Linked DNA regions of Homo sapiens: regions 1 and 2 are each linked to region 3. Evidence: fine-mapped expression QTL. A gene starts in region 3. Each other region holds a variant in brackets. All regions are shown on one strand. Distances are between the middles of the regions. Region 1 overlaps SF3A1 (splicing factor 3a subunit 1). Region 2 overlaps LOC105372990 (a long non-coding RNA gene). Region 3 holds the start of SEC14L2 (SEC14 like lipid binding 2).

The links. PIP is the estimated chance that this variant, and not a neighbour inherited with it, causes the effect.
Region 1: its variant is fine-mapped to the expression of SEC14L2 in whole blood (INTERVAL, PIP 0.97).
Region 2: its variant is fine-mapped to the expression of SEC14L2 in whole blood (TOPMed, PIP above 0.99). The same link has a PIP of 0.9 or more in blood mononuclear cells.

The regions. Positions count from the first base shown.
Region 1 is chr22:30,328,629-30,333,775 of GRCh38, forward strand. It overlaps SF3A1 (splicing factor 3a subunit 1), which reads right to left. Exons shown (of 16, transcript NM_005877.6): 16 at 3,360-5,147. Among named protein-coding and RNA genes, the nearest start is that of TBC1D10A, 4.3 kb to the left of the region's middle. The variant A/G (reference allele first, on the strand shown) is at 2,097.
Region 2 is chr22:30,433,106-30,438,357 of GRCh38, forward strand. It overlaps LOC105372990 (a long non-coding RNA gene), which reads left to right. Exons shown (of 4, transcript NR_148046.1): 1 at 1-139; 2 at 512-790; 3 at 1,187-1,280; 4 at 1,916-3,396. Among named protein-coding and RNA genes, the nearest start is that of MTFP1, 10 kb to the left of the region's middle. RefSeq lists an enhancer at 2,713-3,234. The variant G/A (reference allele first, on the strand shown) is at 2,760.
Region 3 is chr22:30,394,071-30,399,322 of GRCh38, forward strand. SEC14L2 (SEC14 like lipid binding 2) reads left to right here and starts at 2,948. Exons shown (of 12, transcript NM_012429.5): 1 at 2,948-3,100. The coding sequence starts at 3,047. RefSeq lists silencers at 3,191-3,260, 3,281-3,340.

The sequences.
Region 1 (5,147 bases), 65 kb before region 3:
GGTCTTGAGCCTTGAGTGATTTCACCTTGATGCCATGTGGCCTGGACATTCTTGATGGCGTCATTGTACAATCCTCACATTCCATGAGCTTCTGGCTTTCCATAAACAAGGCAAGAACAGACATGGGAGTGGGCACAGGCTATTTTGGTCTTAAACCCTCAGTCTAGGAGGATGTTCCTTCTCTTCAGTGACTCCAGACAGTGGTGGGCTCCTGGTCCCAGCTCCCAGGAGGGGCGGTATGGGTCTTTCATGGTGGTATGGGCCTATCCCAGGAAAGGGAGGGGGAGGAGCCAGACATACCTGGGGCAGATGTGAAGCCTCAAGTACAGCAAAGAAAAGTATCCACGACCCTTTGACTTCATGATTCTATCCCTAGGGTTATATCCCAAACATGTTCTTACTCAGCTCTGTGAGGGCACAAATATAGAGACGTTCACCCCAGGGATATTTGGGGAGGGGGTAGATTAGAGACCCTGAGTGTTCATCTTTAGGAGACTGTATAGATGTTACTCCAGTGATGCTTCAGCTTCTAATTTTCTTTAATCAAACCACCAGGATTTGAATTTATGCTCTGTGACCTTGAGCAAATTACTTCTCTCTGAGCCCATTTCCTCATCTATAAATTGGAAATTCTGAAAAAATTCTTCCTTGGAAGAATTGTGCTGAGACTTTAGTGTGACAGTATGCGCTAAACACCTGGCACATGGAGAAGCCCAGTAAATAATGGCCAGGAGCTGGGCGCGGTGGCTCATGCCTGTAATCCCAGCACTTTGAGAGGCTGAGGTGGGTGGATCACTTGAGATCAGGAGTTCGAGACCAGCCTGGCCAACGTGGTGAAACCCCGTCTCTATTAAAAATTCAAAAATTAGCTGGGCGTGGTGGCAGGCGCCTGTAATCACAGCTACTCAGGAGGCTGAGGCAGGAGAATCGCTGGAACCTGGGAGGCAGAGGTTGCAGTGAGCAGAGATCACACCACTCCAGCCTGGGTGACAGACAAGACTCCATCTCAAAATAAATAAATAAATAAATAAATAAATAATGGCCAGGAGTGGTGGCATTTGAAGCTTGCAAAAGGAATTGCAAATTCATTATTGTCTTGAGTGTTCCCCATCACAGCCTGTGGCTGCAGCGGGGGAGTTTGCCCAATTTAACCTATGGCACGTGGCTTGGGAGACTTCACTTCGTGGCTGTGCCCCTCAACAACTGGGTGTCCTTGTGTGAAATTGCTAACTTTTGTATTTTTTTGTAGAGATTAGGTCTTACTATGTGGCCTAGGATGGTCTTGAACTCCTGGGCTCAAGTGATCTTCCCGCCTTGGCCTCCCAAATTGTTGGGATTACAGGCGTGAGCCTCCATGCCTGGCCAAACTCCAGAGTTCTTTATTTAATACACCTATAATGAGCCAGACATTAGTGCAGGGGTGTCCAACCTTTCGGCTTCCCTGGGCCACACCGGAAGAAGAATTGTCTTAGGCCATACATAAAATACACTAACGATATAGCTGATGAGTTAAAAAACATTGCAAAAAAAAATCTCATAATGTTTTAAGGAAGTTTACAAATTTGGGGCCGGGCGCGGCTCATGCCTATAATCCCAGCACTTTGGGAGGCCGAGGAGGGCGGATCATGAGGTCAGGAGATCGAGACCATCCTGGCTAACACGGTGAAACCCCGTCTCTACTAAAAATACAAAAAATTAGCCGGGCGTGGTGGCAGGAGCCTGTAGTCCCAGCTACTCGGGAGGCTGAGGCAGGAGAATGGCGTGAACCCGGGAGGTGGAGCTTGCAGTGAGCCGAGATGGCGCCACTGCACTCCAGCCTGGGCGAAAGAGCAAGACTCTGTCTAAAAAAAAAAAAGAGAAAGTTTACAAATTTGTGTTGGGCCACATTCAAAGCTCTCCTGGGCCATGGGTTGGACGAGCTTGCTCTAGTGAATAAGAGAGATGAAGTCCTGGCCCAATAGAGTTTATAGTCCAGTGGAGGAGGGACAACATGAACAAGCACAGAACATCTATCAGGTAGTGAGAATAAGAAAATAAAGCCAGGTAAGGTATGGAGAATGCTGGAGTAGGTGTTGGGGAGGTGGTATGGGCTGAAA[A/G]TGAGGGACCCCTTCTGCAGGACTGAGAATAGTGTACAAGCATGGCAGCAGATGATTTTCCCCTTGAAGGAGAAGGAGGCTGTGTTGTTAGATTGGAGTGAGAAAGCAAGGGCAACAGTGAACCAATGAATAAATGATCAGAAAGGAGCCCTGCAGAATCACGTGGTTCACTGGAATAAAGAATTTAAGAGGCCTTAGGCAATGCTGTGGAACATCCTGGTGAACTGGCTGTTGGAGACATTCTTTTGAAGATAGAATGTGTTGATATCCCAGAGTCTCATCCTGCTGGGGTCATTCCCAACAGCTGGGCTTGAGGATCTCACATAGGCCCCTCTCCTGGATCCTGGAATGTGCAGTTGGCATGTGCTCAGGAAACCTGTGAGCACTGGCCATGAGCAAAAGTCCAGATGCCCTTTTTTTTTTTTTTTTTTTTTTTGAGACGGAGTCTTGCTCTGTTGCCCAGGCTGGAGTGCAGTGGTGTGATCCTGGCTCACTGCAACCTCCACCTCCCGGGTTCAAGAGATTCTCCTGCCTCAGCCTCCCAAGTAGCTGGGATTACAGGCACCTGCCACCTGTTATAACAGTATTCTCTGTAATGATCTATTTTAATTTTAATTTAAAAAAACTTTTTTAGAGATGAGTTCTCACTATGTTGTCTAAGCTGACTTTGAACTTCCTGGCTCAAGCAATCCTCTTACCTCAACCTCCCAAGCAGCTGGAACTACAGGTGTGTCACTGTGCCTGGCAGGAGTTTATCTTGTCCTGCTTCATGGACTGTAGTGTCCAGGGGTACCTAGAATTGTTCACTTACATGCTGGGAGCAGTGTCAGGGCATGGTGTCAGGGAACTCACCAGGCAGTGTTCTTTTATATAACAATGCAGCCTTTTTTTTTTTTTTTAGACAGAGTTTCAATCTTGTTGCCCAGGCTGGAGTGCAATGGTGCTATCTCAGCTCACCACAACCTCCACCTCCTGGGTTCAAGCGATCCTCCTGCCTCAGCCTCCCAAGTAGCTGGGATTACAGGCATGTGCCACCATGCCCGGCTAATTTTGTATTTTTAGTAGAGACAGGGTTTCTCCATGTTGGTCAGGCTGGTCTTGAACTCGCGACCTCAGGTGATCCGCCCGCCTCGGCCTCCCAAAGTGCTGGGATTACAGGTGTGAGCCACTACACCTGGCAACAATGCAGAATTAAAAAAATGTAACAATACAGAATAGTTAACAGCAAATCTCCATATCTGGTAGAGTTAATGATCATAACTCTTAAGATCTTACATTTTGCTTTTATTTTTAAAAAGTAAACTTCTAAAAATCTTATACACTGGTATGTGTACCCATGAGTAGAGCTATATTATGCTTTCTTGTCTAATTACAGGGATAAATGAAATATGATTGCTAATAGTACATGTATTTCCATTCAAGTATATATCCTAACATAACCCAATATAACCATTTAATATATTCTCTAATACAATATTATTAATTTTAAAGTAAAATGGTTCTGATCATTACTGGCCTCCTCTAAGAGTACATGACAAGTACTTAAGTAGTGGGTAGAACTGAAAGTGAAATTCCTTAATGTCTACAATTCCTGGAGCCCTCTGCATGCAAGTCTTCAAAATTATGGTGACTTAAGTCCCACACCACCTGTTTTCCCAGCAGTCCTGCAACAGGAGCACTTATTCCTATTTCATAGTGTGGTCTGGTGGAGCAGAGCAGTGTGGTCCCCAGGAAGGGATGAGCTGCTTTGGCTTTCCAGAGCACTCACTGGCTACATGACCTTGGGTATTCCACCTCGTTTTAAAAATGGGGCAGATAATCCTCAGGAGATTGCAAGAAGAATCAGAAAAGCTGTGCAGAGCAGCTTTGTATTATAAACACTAGGACGCTACCTACATGCTGCAGGTCCTAAACTAGTGCAGTGCCAAGCAGCACACTGGGCCTGTGGCCACTGATGTTCACAAGGCCTCATGGTCAATGGAGCTTCTGCATCTGAGCGAGCCAGTACAGATATTCATTCAGGAGCTCCAGGAAACTGGATTTGCTCTCTAGAGGGCAGCTCAAAGGGCCCATTCACTCACAATCCACCCAACGGCATTCCTGGCCTCCGGTCACAGCCTCAGCCACGGAAGTCCTGCAGGGTTTGCCAGTCTGTGGGGGTGAGTGCCCTAACACCATGAACTGCCCACTGCTCCCAGAAAGAAAGAAGAACTTGGAATATGAGACTCCCCAGGTCTCCTGACCCTCTTCCTTCTTGGAATGAGACCCAGGTAGTGCTCAGGGGATTTCTGGTGTTGGCCATGGACAAGCAACCAGTAGTGGGCTCACTTTAGGGACGCAAACCACAAAGCCCACCTCAGGAAGCCAAATTTCAACTCTTGCCCCTGGGGCAAACTTCTAGCAACCAGGCCAGAGGCAAATGTCAGACAGGATAAGGGATGACATCCCATCAATCAAGTTGAAAATGGGAGGGACCCAGCAGTTTGTAATAAAGCCATAAAACTGGTACTGACTCTGGGTGAGAGGGAGAGGCAGGGTGGTGACTAGAGAGCTGGTTCTGTGACCTTGGGAAATGGTCTCACCCCTCTGAGCCCTGGAGATGACCTGATGGGGCAGCTAGGAGGTCCAAATGGAAGGACTGCAAATAAAAGGCACTGGGAACTCTCAGGGGCCACACACATGTGAGATCTTCCCAATAAAATCAGCCTTAGCTTTAAAACCAGGAAATTGTTAGCAACAGGCTCTCACCTTCCTCCAACACCCACAGCATTGCCTATCTCCCTGTGATAGCTTGATTCTAAAGATAACAGCCTGCCTTTACTCAGAAACCAGGACTGTGACGTGTTTTGCACACATTCTCTTTTCACTTTCACAGTGTGTGACTATGGCATGCAACTTATGTTCTCTGTGCCTCAGTTTACTCAAGTGTTAAACAGGAATACTCACATGAGGATTACATGAGTTAAAATGGATAAAATGGATAAAAGTAGAGAGTAAATTATTTAAACTTTATCAAATCCTTGGTACATGACCTTAATACAATTAAGTATT
Region 2 (5,252 bases), 39 kb after region 3:
TGGTTGGCAGCTCCCATTAGCCTTTACAGGTATATGTGGACGAGTGTGTGATCAGCCCCAGCCAGGATATGGAAGTGGCCCCTGCACACTACAGCCTTGTCAGGAATCATGGGTACTGAACCTGGAGGAGGAGGATAGGGTAGGATGGGTACAATTCAGTGGGTGATATCTCTGGGGAGGCTGGGACAGGGGCTGAGAGCCTTCCAGGGCTGGAAGGCACGGATGCCCAGATAGTGCTCCCTGGGCGTTCTTGAGTAGTCCTTTCTAGGCCAGGGGAGCAAGAATGCTTTACTGGCCCTTTCACCTCTGGAGCCTCTGTTTGCCCTTCTGTGAAATGGGGATAGTGCCAGAATCTTCAAAGCCTGCTGTGTAGACTGAATGGGGTGACGCTTAGCTCAGTGCTTGGCATGCAGAATTCTCAACAAATGATGGTGTATGGTGGTGTTGGGGCTAGGACCAGATCCCAGTTCAGGGGTCTGACCCTGATGACCTTCCAACCTGTGCCTTCCAGGTGCCTGGTGAACGGCAAGAACTTCCACTCCCACTTCGTGCCCCAAGAGGTCCCCAAGAGACTGGAGCTCTCCTTCCAGGCCTTCAGCTTTACTGGTACTCCTGCTGATGTGAGTGGAAACAGATAACCCCCTCCCCACTCTGCCACCCCGTAGGAACAGAGACCCAAGCTGAGGAATCTTTGGAAGTTACGGGGTGCACCACAAGCTGTTGCTCTGGAATCTAAAGGTCCCATCTGATGCTACCAAGAAGGCCTGTTCCTTCCACAGGGGCACTCATGGTGAGTCATGTTCACCAAAGGTGTACTGCATGCCTTACCCTGTAACTGGCATTTGAGGTACATGACCTCACTTAATTGTGTGGGAGGTGAGGAAACTGAGGCTCAAAATAGCTCAGATTGAATTTCTGCAATAGTTCCCCATGCTTGGCTGGACCACAAGCCCAACTGCTTTGGCCTAGAGTGGGCAGTGTGAGGTATACTGGGAATGGAGGCTTTGGACTGTGACCTAGACCCAGGTTCAAATCCCAGCTCCAGCTCTTGCTGGCTGTGACATCATGGGCAAGTCACTGACCTTTTGTTAGCCTCTGTTTCTTTGCTTGTTAAATGCAGGTCTGGTCCATGCCACCCCTAGCTCCCATCTCTGGTGCACTGACCACCTCCATCCCTCACCTCTAGGTAAGAACTTCTGGATGCCTCCCTGGGAGTATGAGTGACAGTTGTGAGATTACCTGCCTGGCCCCCTGATTACCCTATCAAAGGTCCTTGGCAGGTAGGAGGCCCCTGTTTTGGGTGTGGAGGGTGGAGGTAGGCTCTGAGGCAAGGGAGGCAGCTGGCCCGGGGAATCAGTCACAGCCTTGCATGAACAGGCTTATAGAAGACATCATCTTGCTACTAAAGGCCTCTGAGGAAACTGACACTGGCCTGGACCACAAAGACCCACTCAAGGTGCCCATTGATCAGAACCAAGGAGGGTCCTGGCTTCTGGATCCTGTCTGGAGAGGCTTCTACTGTGTGGGACCTTGGGCAAATCCTTTCCCTTTCTGGGCCTTGGTTTCCCCAAGTGCAAAATGAGAGCATTAGATTGGCCTGCCACTTTTGAGCCTCTCATGTAATCTTTATTAAACAGATATCTGGAGACCCCTTCACCTCCACCCACATAACCCTTGATATATGCCCTTCTGAGAGTTTCATAGAGGAGAGAGAAGGCTTGTAGTCACTCACACCATAGTATAAACAACATGTTATCTTTTCTGTCCTTGGAAAAAAAATAGCTTCATATTCTCTCAACTTTCAGTATCAGTAAACAAATAGTAGAAGGTCAGAAGTTTATAGCTGTGTGTGTTGGGGGTGTGAGGGGATGTTGTGTTGTGGCTTAAAACTGTCTTTGATGTCTTTGGCTTCCAGATTCCAATCAGGCCTCTGAGAAGGCTTCCCATCAGGCCCCTGAGAAGGCTTCCAATCAGGTGACAGAGAAGGCTGACTTGTCCTCTGAACTGAGTCAGGCTTCTGACTCTAGGGGGCCTGGAGACGAGCAAGGGAGCCCTCTCCTGTAGCCTGGGCTCTTCTCCAGGTCCCCTTCACAGTGAGAGACACTGGAGCTCTGCATCCAGTGGTCTTTGGCAGTCCCTGTAGAACCAGGCTCTGGCTTCCTCCTTCTCCCCTCCCTCTCCTCCCTGGGCCCCCATTTGTGGCCTGCCAGGGCAGAGCCTGAAACCTCAGGCAATCTGGCTGTAAGCTTGCTTACCTCATGACCTTGGAAGCCACTTACCCCTTTGAGCCTCCTTATCCAGAACAGTAACTGCTGCCCACTGCATATTGTTAATACATGCTGCCTTTGTTGCCTGCCTGCCTGCCAAAGGAGGGGCCAGGGCTTCCATTTTTCTGTTTAATCCTCCCAAGAATCCTCCCAATAATCCCATGCAGTAGACACAATCAGGTCCCATTCTATAGATGGGGAAACTGAGGCTTGAGGTCACATAGGCGTCGTTCAAGGCTGGTATACCTGCACCCTCTCCCATGTGAACAACATGGTTCTGGGTAATGGGGGCTGTCATCCAGTCTCCTCCCTGCCCCTGCTGGTGCACTTCCTGCCTCTGCTGGTGCACTTTCTGCCCCTACTGGTATATTTGCTGCCTCTGCTGGGGCGCTTCCTGCCTCGGCTGGTGTATCTCCTGCCCCTGCTGGTGCACTTTCTGCCCCCGCTGATGCACTTCCTGCCTCTGCTGGTGCACTTCCTGGCTCTGCTGGC[G/A]CACTTCCTGCCTCTGCTGGTGCACTTCCTGGCTCTGCTGGCGCACTTCCTGCCCCTGCTGGTGTATTTCCTGCCCCTGCTGGTGTACTTCCTTCCCCTGCTGGTGCACTTCCTGCCTCTGCTGGCGCACTTCTTGCCTCTCCAGGCCCTACCTAGCCTCTCCCTCTTATATATGGAAGTCTTCCCAGTTCACTGACACTGGTAACAGGGACTCTGCTCTTGGTGTTGCTGTCTGCCCTGGGGATGGGCATCTGTGTCTTCCTTTACTACTGCTGGCTCAGGACCCAGAGCTTTGAAGCATGTCCAGATGCAGGTCCGGGCACCAGAGTCTAAGGAGCCCCTACACCCACCAGGATTTTCCAATAAAGAGATGTTCACCAATGAGTTTAGCTCTCTGGTTTTCCTGAGGAAGGGCTGGGAACATGAGGTCCCCAGAACAGGGGCCACTGTTGGGGATACTGTCTTAGGCATGGCAGGACTCAGACAGGGGTGGGGAGGGGTGGAAAGAAGTGCGTTTTTCCTCCAAACCTGTGGCTGCCTTGGGTAGGCTGGGCTCAGAGCACTCCTGCCTTTGCCCCTTAATGTTTGAGAAGCCCAGCAGCCCCCTAGGGCGGAGGTTGAGCCTCTTGAGGATGACAGAGAGGAGGGCCCATTGGAGGTTTACTTTGCATATCCTCTTGCCTGTAGACCAGTAAGTGGCATGTCACAGCTGGCCAGTAGGGATGACAGCCAATTGTTAGCTTTTCAGGAATTTTATGAGCTCGTTGTTAGACACAGCCATTATTAAAAATTAAATAATGTAGGCTGGTGTGGTGGCTCATACCTGTGATTCTAACACTTTGGGAGGCCGAGGGAGGTGATCTGCTTGCGCCCGGGAGTTCGAGACCAGCCTGGGCAACACGGTGAAGCCCTGTCTCTACAAAAAATATAAAAATTAGCTGGATGTGGTGGTGCACGCCTGTAGTCCCAGCTACTCAGAAGGTTGAGATGGGAGGATCGCTTATGCCCAGGAGTTTGAGGCTGCAGTGAGCTGTAATCACACCACTGCATTCCAGCATGGGCGGCAGAGTGAGACCCTGTCTCAAAAAAAATAAATAAATAAACAATATAAAAAGATCAAATGATATAAACTTAGATTTAAATACATTTTACTAAAAACAAAGTAAATGCTCAAAACTTGTTGCCTCGTAATCATTTTACTATCTTAATAGTAAATATTTTACTATCTTACTATCTTACTATCCTTACTATCCTCACTATCCTTACTATCATCCTTACTATCCTTACTATACCTTACTATCATCTATGCTCTTGGGAGCTTATTTACATCTATTCTGTTTGGTGGAAAGACCACATTATCATGTGCTACTGTGTATCGCTTTATGTGGGAAGCTTGAAATAGGCCATAGTGGACACATTTATACCATGGAAATTGACAAGGCAGGGTCTCCATACCTAGAAAGTCCTGTAGTTTACCACCATTCTTCTGACCCTCTTGCTAACCCAGAGGGTAGGTAGTGTGAACCAAAAGTATCTGAGACAGGTCTCAATCAATTTAGAAAGTTTATTTTTCCAAGGTTAAGGATGCACCTGTGACAGCCTCACCCTGATGCCATGTGCCCAAGATGGTTGGGGCACAGCTTGGTTTTATACACTTTAGGGAGACATGAGACATCGATCAATGTGTGTAAAATGTACATGGGTTTGGTCTGGAAAGGCAGGACAACTTGAAGTGGGGTGGGGGCTTCCAGGTCATGGGTCGATAAGAGATAAAAGTTTGTGTTCTTTTGGATCCTTATCAGCCTTTCACTGAATAACAATTTACATGTGAGCCGGGGTGGCGGGTAGAGGAATAGTCACTTATGCTTTAGTCTGGCTCAGTGAAGCTGCATTTTTACATAAACAATAAGGGCAGAGGAAGCAATCAGATGCATTTGTCTCAGGTGAGCAGAGGGATGACTTTGAGTTCTGTCCTTTGTCCTGCACCTGTGAAGATCAGCTATTCATTTACATTGCCAGGGTGAAATCCAACAGAACTGTTTTAGGGTAAAAATCTTGAGGCCTACAAGGAATTTCCTTGTGGGCAAAATGTGCATGAGGTATGTAGCTTTTTAATCCTTGTAGCTATCTTATTTAGGAATAAAATGGGAGGCAAGTTTGCCTGATGCAGTTCCCAGCTTGTCTTTTCCCTTTGGCTTAATGATTTTGAGGTCCCCAGATTTATTTCCCTTTCATAGTAGATAAACTGCTCCCCATTCCAGACTTACATTCTAAGAATCAGAGAAGGCAAGTGACCTGGCAAAGGCCTCCCAGCATATATGGTCACAGGTAAAACTCAAGCCTGGTCTGTTATTCCCTCCCCAAAACTGCCTGGTAGGGAGAAGGGAAAGCCAGCCTCAGCTGTGACTGACTCCTGGCTATCTGGAGCTCTCCCTCCAGATTCCTTTCTACCTCTCTGGCTGTCACCCCAGTGCTAAGAGCCTGGGCTCAGGC
Region 3 (5,252 bases):
GGAGCCATTGAAGATTCTTGAGCAGGGGTGCAACATACCTAGCAGGGAGGAAGAACTGTAGGGCAGGGATTAGGGGATGGAGAAAAAGTGGGGATGGGAAGGAGGGACTCTCTCTTGTTAGCCAGCTCCAGGACTTCACCAGATTATTTATTTATGTGTTTTTGTTTGTTTGCTTGTTTTTTTTTTTTTTTTTTTTTAGACCGAGTTTCTCTCCTGTTGCCCAGGCTGGACTGCAGTGACGTGATCTCGGCTCACTGCAACCTCTGCCTCCTGGGTTCAAGCGATTCTCCTGCCTCACCCTCCCAAGTAGCTGGGTTTACAGGCGCCCGCCACCATGCCCGGCTAATTTTTGTATTTTTAGTTTCACCATGTTGGCCAGGCTGGTCTCAAACTCCTGAACTCAGGTAATCCACCCGCCTCAGCCTCCCAAAGTGCTGGGATTACAGGCGTGAGCCACTGTGCCTGGCTAGGTTTTTTTTTTTTTTTTTTTTTTTTTTGAGACAGAGCCTTGCTTTGTCGCCCAGGCTGGAATGCAATGGTGCCATCTTGGGTCACTGCAGCCTCCACCTCCTGGGTTCAAGCGATTCTCCTGCCTCAGGCTCCCAAGTAGCTGGGACTACAGGTGTGTGCCACCATGCCTGGCTAATTTTTTTTTTTTTGGTATGTTTAGTAGATACGAGGTTCACCATGTTGGCCAGGCTGGTCTTGAACTCCTGACCTCAGGTGATTCACCCACTTCAGCCTCCCGAAGTGCTGGGATTACGGGTGTGAGCAACCGAGCCTGGGCCTATTTAGGATTTATATGATCAAATTAACTAGCTGTTTTATGGTGGGCCAGAAGTAGGTTAAGTCTCAGTGGAGGAAGAAGAAAGAGGCAGCTGTTGAACCTGGGAAGGGCAGGCCTGGGGAAGGGTTCTTTACCGAGGCTTTTATTTGGGTAACTTCAGATGCGGGGAGGGCTGTATCCTGCTGGGTGAAGGTGATCTTGTACTTTCGTGGGTAACTTTCGCAGGCAGTTCCCAGGCCCGTCCACACCTTGGCCTGGGAGCATACGGCCTAGAAACCACAAACTTGGGTTTAAGTCCCAACTCTGCACGTGCCCACCTATGACCACCTCTCCCTCAGGCTCCTCAATAAGTCACCTGACCTGCCTACCTTAGAGGATTGTCCCACACTTAAGTGACAAGCTAGATCTGAAGGTACCTTGTGAGCTCTAAGTTGCTGAACCAATATAAGAGGCTGTGCTTCTTGTTTTTATTTTTTGTTTGTTTGTTTTTTTTTTTTAGAGGGAGTCTTGCTCTGTCGCCCCAGACTGGAGTACAATGGTGTGATCTCAGCTCGCTGCATCCTCTGCCTCCCAGGTTCAAGCAATTCTCCCACCTCAGCCTCCTGAGTAGCTGGGACTACAGATGCACACCACCACGCCTAGCTAATGTTTGTATTTTTAGTAGAGACGGGGTTTCACCATGTTGGCCAGGCTAGTCTCAAACTCCTGACCTCAGGTGATCTGCCTGCCTTGGCCTCCCAAAGTGCTGGGATTATAGGTGTGAGCCACCGCGCCCGGCCAAGATGCTGTTCTTCTATAATAGTTTCCTTTGAGTAGGCTCTAGCCTGGAAAGAATATCCTGGCCCTGGAAGGGTCTTATATAAAGATCTTAGCCATGTATCCAGTAAGGAAGGCAGCCCTGTCCTGCCCCAGGCCAGAAGCCAGCGAGCCTAACTAGGGCAGAACTGCCTGAAAACTCTCTGTAGAGGTGGGCGTTGGGGGCCTCAACCCTCACTCTGCACCCTGCAGCAGGCGTCTATGGAGGGGGCCACACCAAGGGCAGAGCAAAGTCCTTAAATGTCTTTAACAGGCCTGGTGCCTTTGCCTCCAGGTAAGGAGAGAGACTGGGGACATTCTGCTTTGTCTCTCCCAGAGACTTGAGTGTTGAGGGGGCAGAAGTATGGCTCTGGGAGACGAGATGCCCACAGACTCCTGGACCTAGCTCTGCATTAATTCCAGGCCATAAGGGGAGGGCACAGCTGAGCACTTTCCATGTGCCAGGCAGTGGGCACTCCACATATGTCATGCCACTAACAACTTTGGGCAAGCCATGCCTTATCTGGGCCTCAGTTTCCCTAGCTGTTAAACGAGGTAAGTTGCATGATCCCTGAATGATCTATGTTTCTCTCTCCCTCTCAGGGTTCTGCCAGCCCCGGGATCTGTGTCTCTATTGGAGCAGTTCTTACATTCATTCATTCATTCAGGATACATTTATTAATAATCCCTGTAGGCTGGGCACCGTGGCTCACATTTGTAATCCTAGCACTTTGAGAGGCCGAGGCGGATCACTTGAGGTCAGGAGTTCGACACCCGCCTGGCCAACATGGTGAAACCCCATCTGTACTAAAAATACAAAAATTAGCTTGGCATGGTGGCGTGCACCTGTAATCCCAGCTACTCGGGAGGCCGAGGCAGGAGAATAGCTTGAACCCGGGAGGCGAAGGTTGCAGTGAGCCGAGGTCGTGACACTGCACTCCAGCCTGGGTGACAGAGCGAGTCTCCGTTTCAAAAAAAAAACAATGCAAAAACAATCCCTGTGTGCAGGATGCTGTGCTGTCCTGCACTATGCGAGCCTGGTTAGAAGAGCTCATTAGATAGCACCTTTCAATCCCTCCTTGTTCAGAGGCCCAGAGAGCTCAGGTGTCTCTTCCAAGGTCACACAATGAGGTAAGGATAAATTTGGAACTAAAACTGAGACTCCCTGCCCTTCTGATGCCCACTGGCCTCAGTCCCAGTGGGCACACTTGCTCGCCTCCTGCCTGGGTCTCTGACTTCAGGAGGGCGGAGGGGGCCCGTGTCAGAGCCTTCCGCGCCCCAGCGCATCGCTCCCTACTCCGCCTCTCGGGATCCTTTAAGAGGCGGGGCTTGGCTGCCAGCTCCGCGGCCCGGGCAAAAGGCTGGGACTTTACTCCGGGTGGCGGCGAGGACGAGTCTGTGCTCCATCAGCTGCCGCACCCGCCGCCTCCCGCCCCCAAACCCCATCCCCGCGGTTGAGCCACGATGAGCGGCAGAGTCGGCGATCTGAGCCCCAGGCAGAAGGAGGCATTGGCCAAGGTGAGCTGTAGCCCTGGCCCGGGCTCCCGCCTCGGGCTGTGGCCCTCGCCCTCCTGCGGCAGCGAGAAGGGACGGGGCTGGGTGGGGGCCGAGGGTCCGTGGCGGGCGGCGGAGGGAACAGAGGCGGCTGTCCCAGCCTGGCCCGCGCCCGCGGATGGCTCCTTCCTCCCTTTGCCACCCTCGAGGTCCCAGGAAGTTTGGCCACCCCCCGCCCAAGCTCTGAGCAGCCGTGGCGGTGCCACCTGGGGACAAGTGGTTGCTTGTGAGTCCCCGGAGGCCGCTGAGGGCACAAAGGCAACATTCATCCTCGGGACTGGCAGCCGGGCCCTGGGGCAGGGGCAGGGGCAGGGGCCCAAGTTTCCTCCCATTTCCGGGAGGCTTTCTTCTTGTAGGGTCAGTGGCACGATGGAAAGGGCTCTGGATAGCTCCTTGGGAGACTTGGATAGCTCCTGCCCCGGCACCAAGCCGCTGTGCGACCTTGGGCAAAACCCTGCCCTTCTCTTTGCTCCTCGATGCCATGGAATGAGGAGGTTGGACCAGATGATGTTGAAGGGAACACCTCCGTGTGTGAATTCCAGGCTCCCCCCATGAGGCACTGGGTTGGTGTTAGTTTGAGCTGAGACCAGCCGTCCCCTATCTTGCATCCCAGACCCCTGCCTGGTTCAGGACTTAAGGTTTATGCTCCTCAGAAGGCAAGAAGGTGAGCCTGGCTTTGCCTTGGCATCTGTGACAAGGAGGGGGCAACAGTTTGAGGGCGGGACCTTCCTCTTCACGAACTAAATCTCTTATCTGTCACCCCTGGGGAGTGAGGAGGTCGGCTCTTCTCTGGGCAAGAGCCGATAGGGTCTGGCCCCAAGATTTGGAGGCTCCACAGCTGGGGAGTTTTCCATGGCTGGGAAAGGTGGGGCGGGGGGCAGATGTATCCTGCCACTGGCAGCAGTGGGGAGGCACCAGCTCCATAAAGCCTCTGTCCCAGGCTGGGCCTCCCCCATCCCAGGAAGGCTGGACAGGGAGGCTTCAGATTTTACTGCTGACTCGCAGGAGAGGTCAGGCAGAGAAGGGATTAGGTGGTGATTAAACTGGAGACCAGGGGCTGGTTAGGGTCCTTGGAGAGGGGTAGCTTCATGCCTGCAGTTTGGAGGAGCAGTTTCCCTGGTGCACTGGGAGCTGCTTTGTGGGGTGGGATGGTCTGAGTCCCTGGCTGACCTAGGCAAGGGGCAGAGGTGGCCAGTCCTCATTAGTGTCCTCTGGGACTGCCCTCTAGGTCAGTGGTCAGGGAAAGGTGAATGGCTGGGAGCAGGAGGCTCAGGGAGGGCATATAGGGGCCTGTTCGCCTACCAGGGAGTGAGAGGTTGGAGGTAGGTGTGGCTGTCCATTGAGGTCACTGTCCACCTCCTTTGTTTGGCACTACCTGCACTTTCCCGCTTCCTGGCTTCCCCTACTGGAACTGTTCCCTCCACCTGAGTTGCCCACCTCTCTCCCCCGCTGCCTTTGAAGTCCTTCAAGCCCAGCACAAATGCCATGTTTTATAGGAAGCCGTGTGAGACCACCTCTTTCTTCCCTCTGCTCCCCAGCAAACTCCTCATCCTTCCATGGGGCAGAAGACCATGGTGGAAAGAGTGTGTGCTCTGGACTCAGACAGACCCGGGTTTGCATCCCAACTCTGCTAATGACTAGCTGTTTGACCTTGGGCATGTTACTTAGCCTCTCTGAGCTTTAATTCCTTCATCTGTAGAATGGGGACAATACTTCTACGGGTTGTGAGTGAGGAGTAAATAAGCTATGGTGCCAAGATCAGCGCTGAGCGACAGGAAATGCTTGGTAAACTGACAGCTTTTACTGCAGTCCGTATCAGAGTGCCTACTATCACGATTAGCTGGGAACACATCTGCCTGCCCGCAGACTGGTGTGTGGGAGCCCTTGTTGTGGGGCAGGGGCAGTGTCTCACTCCCTTCCCACTTCCTGCCCTGCAACCTGGCACCCCCTGACAAGACAGTGCTCCAGGCAGCATGAGTGCCCAGGGAGTGTCTGCAGAGTTGAACTATGTTAAAGAGAAGTCCAGTTGGCCGGGCGTGGGGGTTCATGCCTGTAATCCCAGCACTTTAGACCGAGATGGGCGGATCAGGACGAGGTCAGGAGATCAAGACTACCC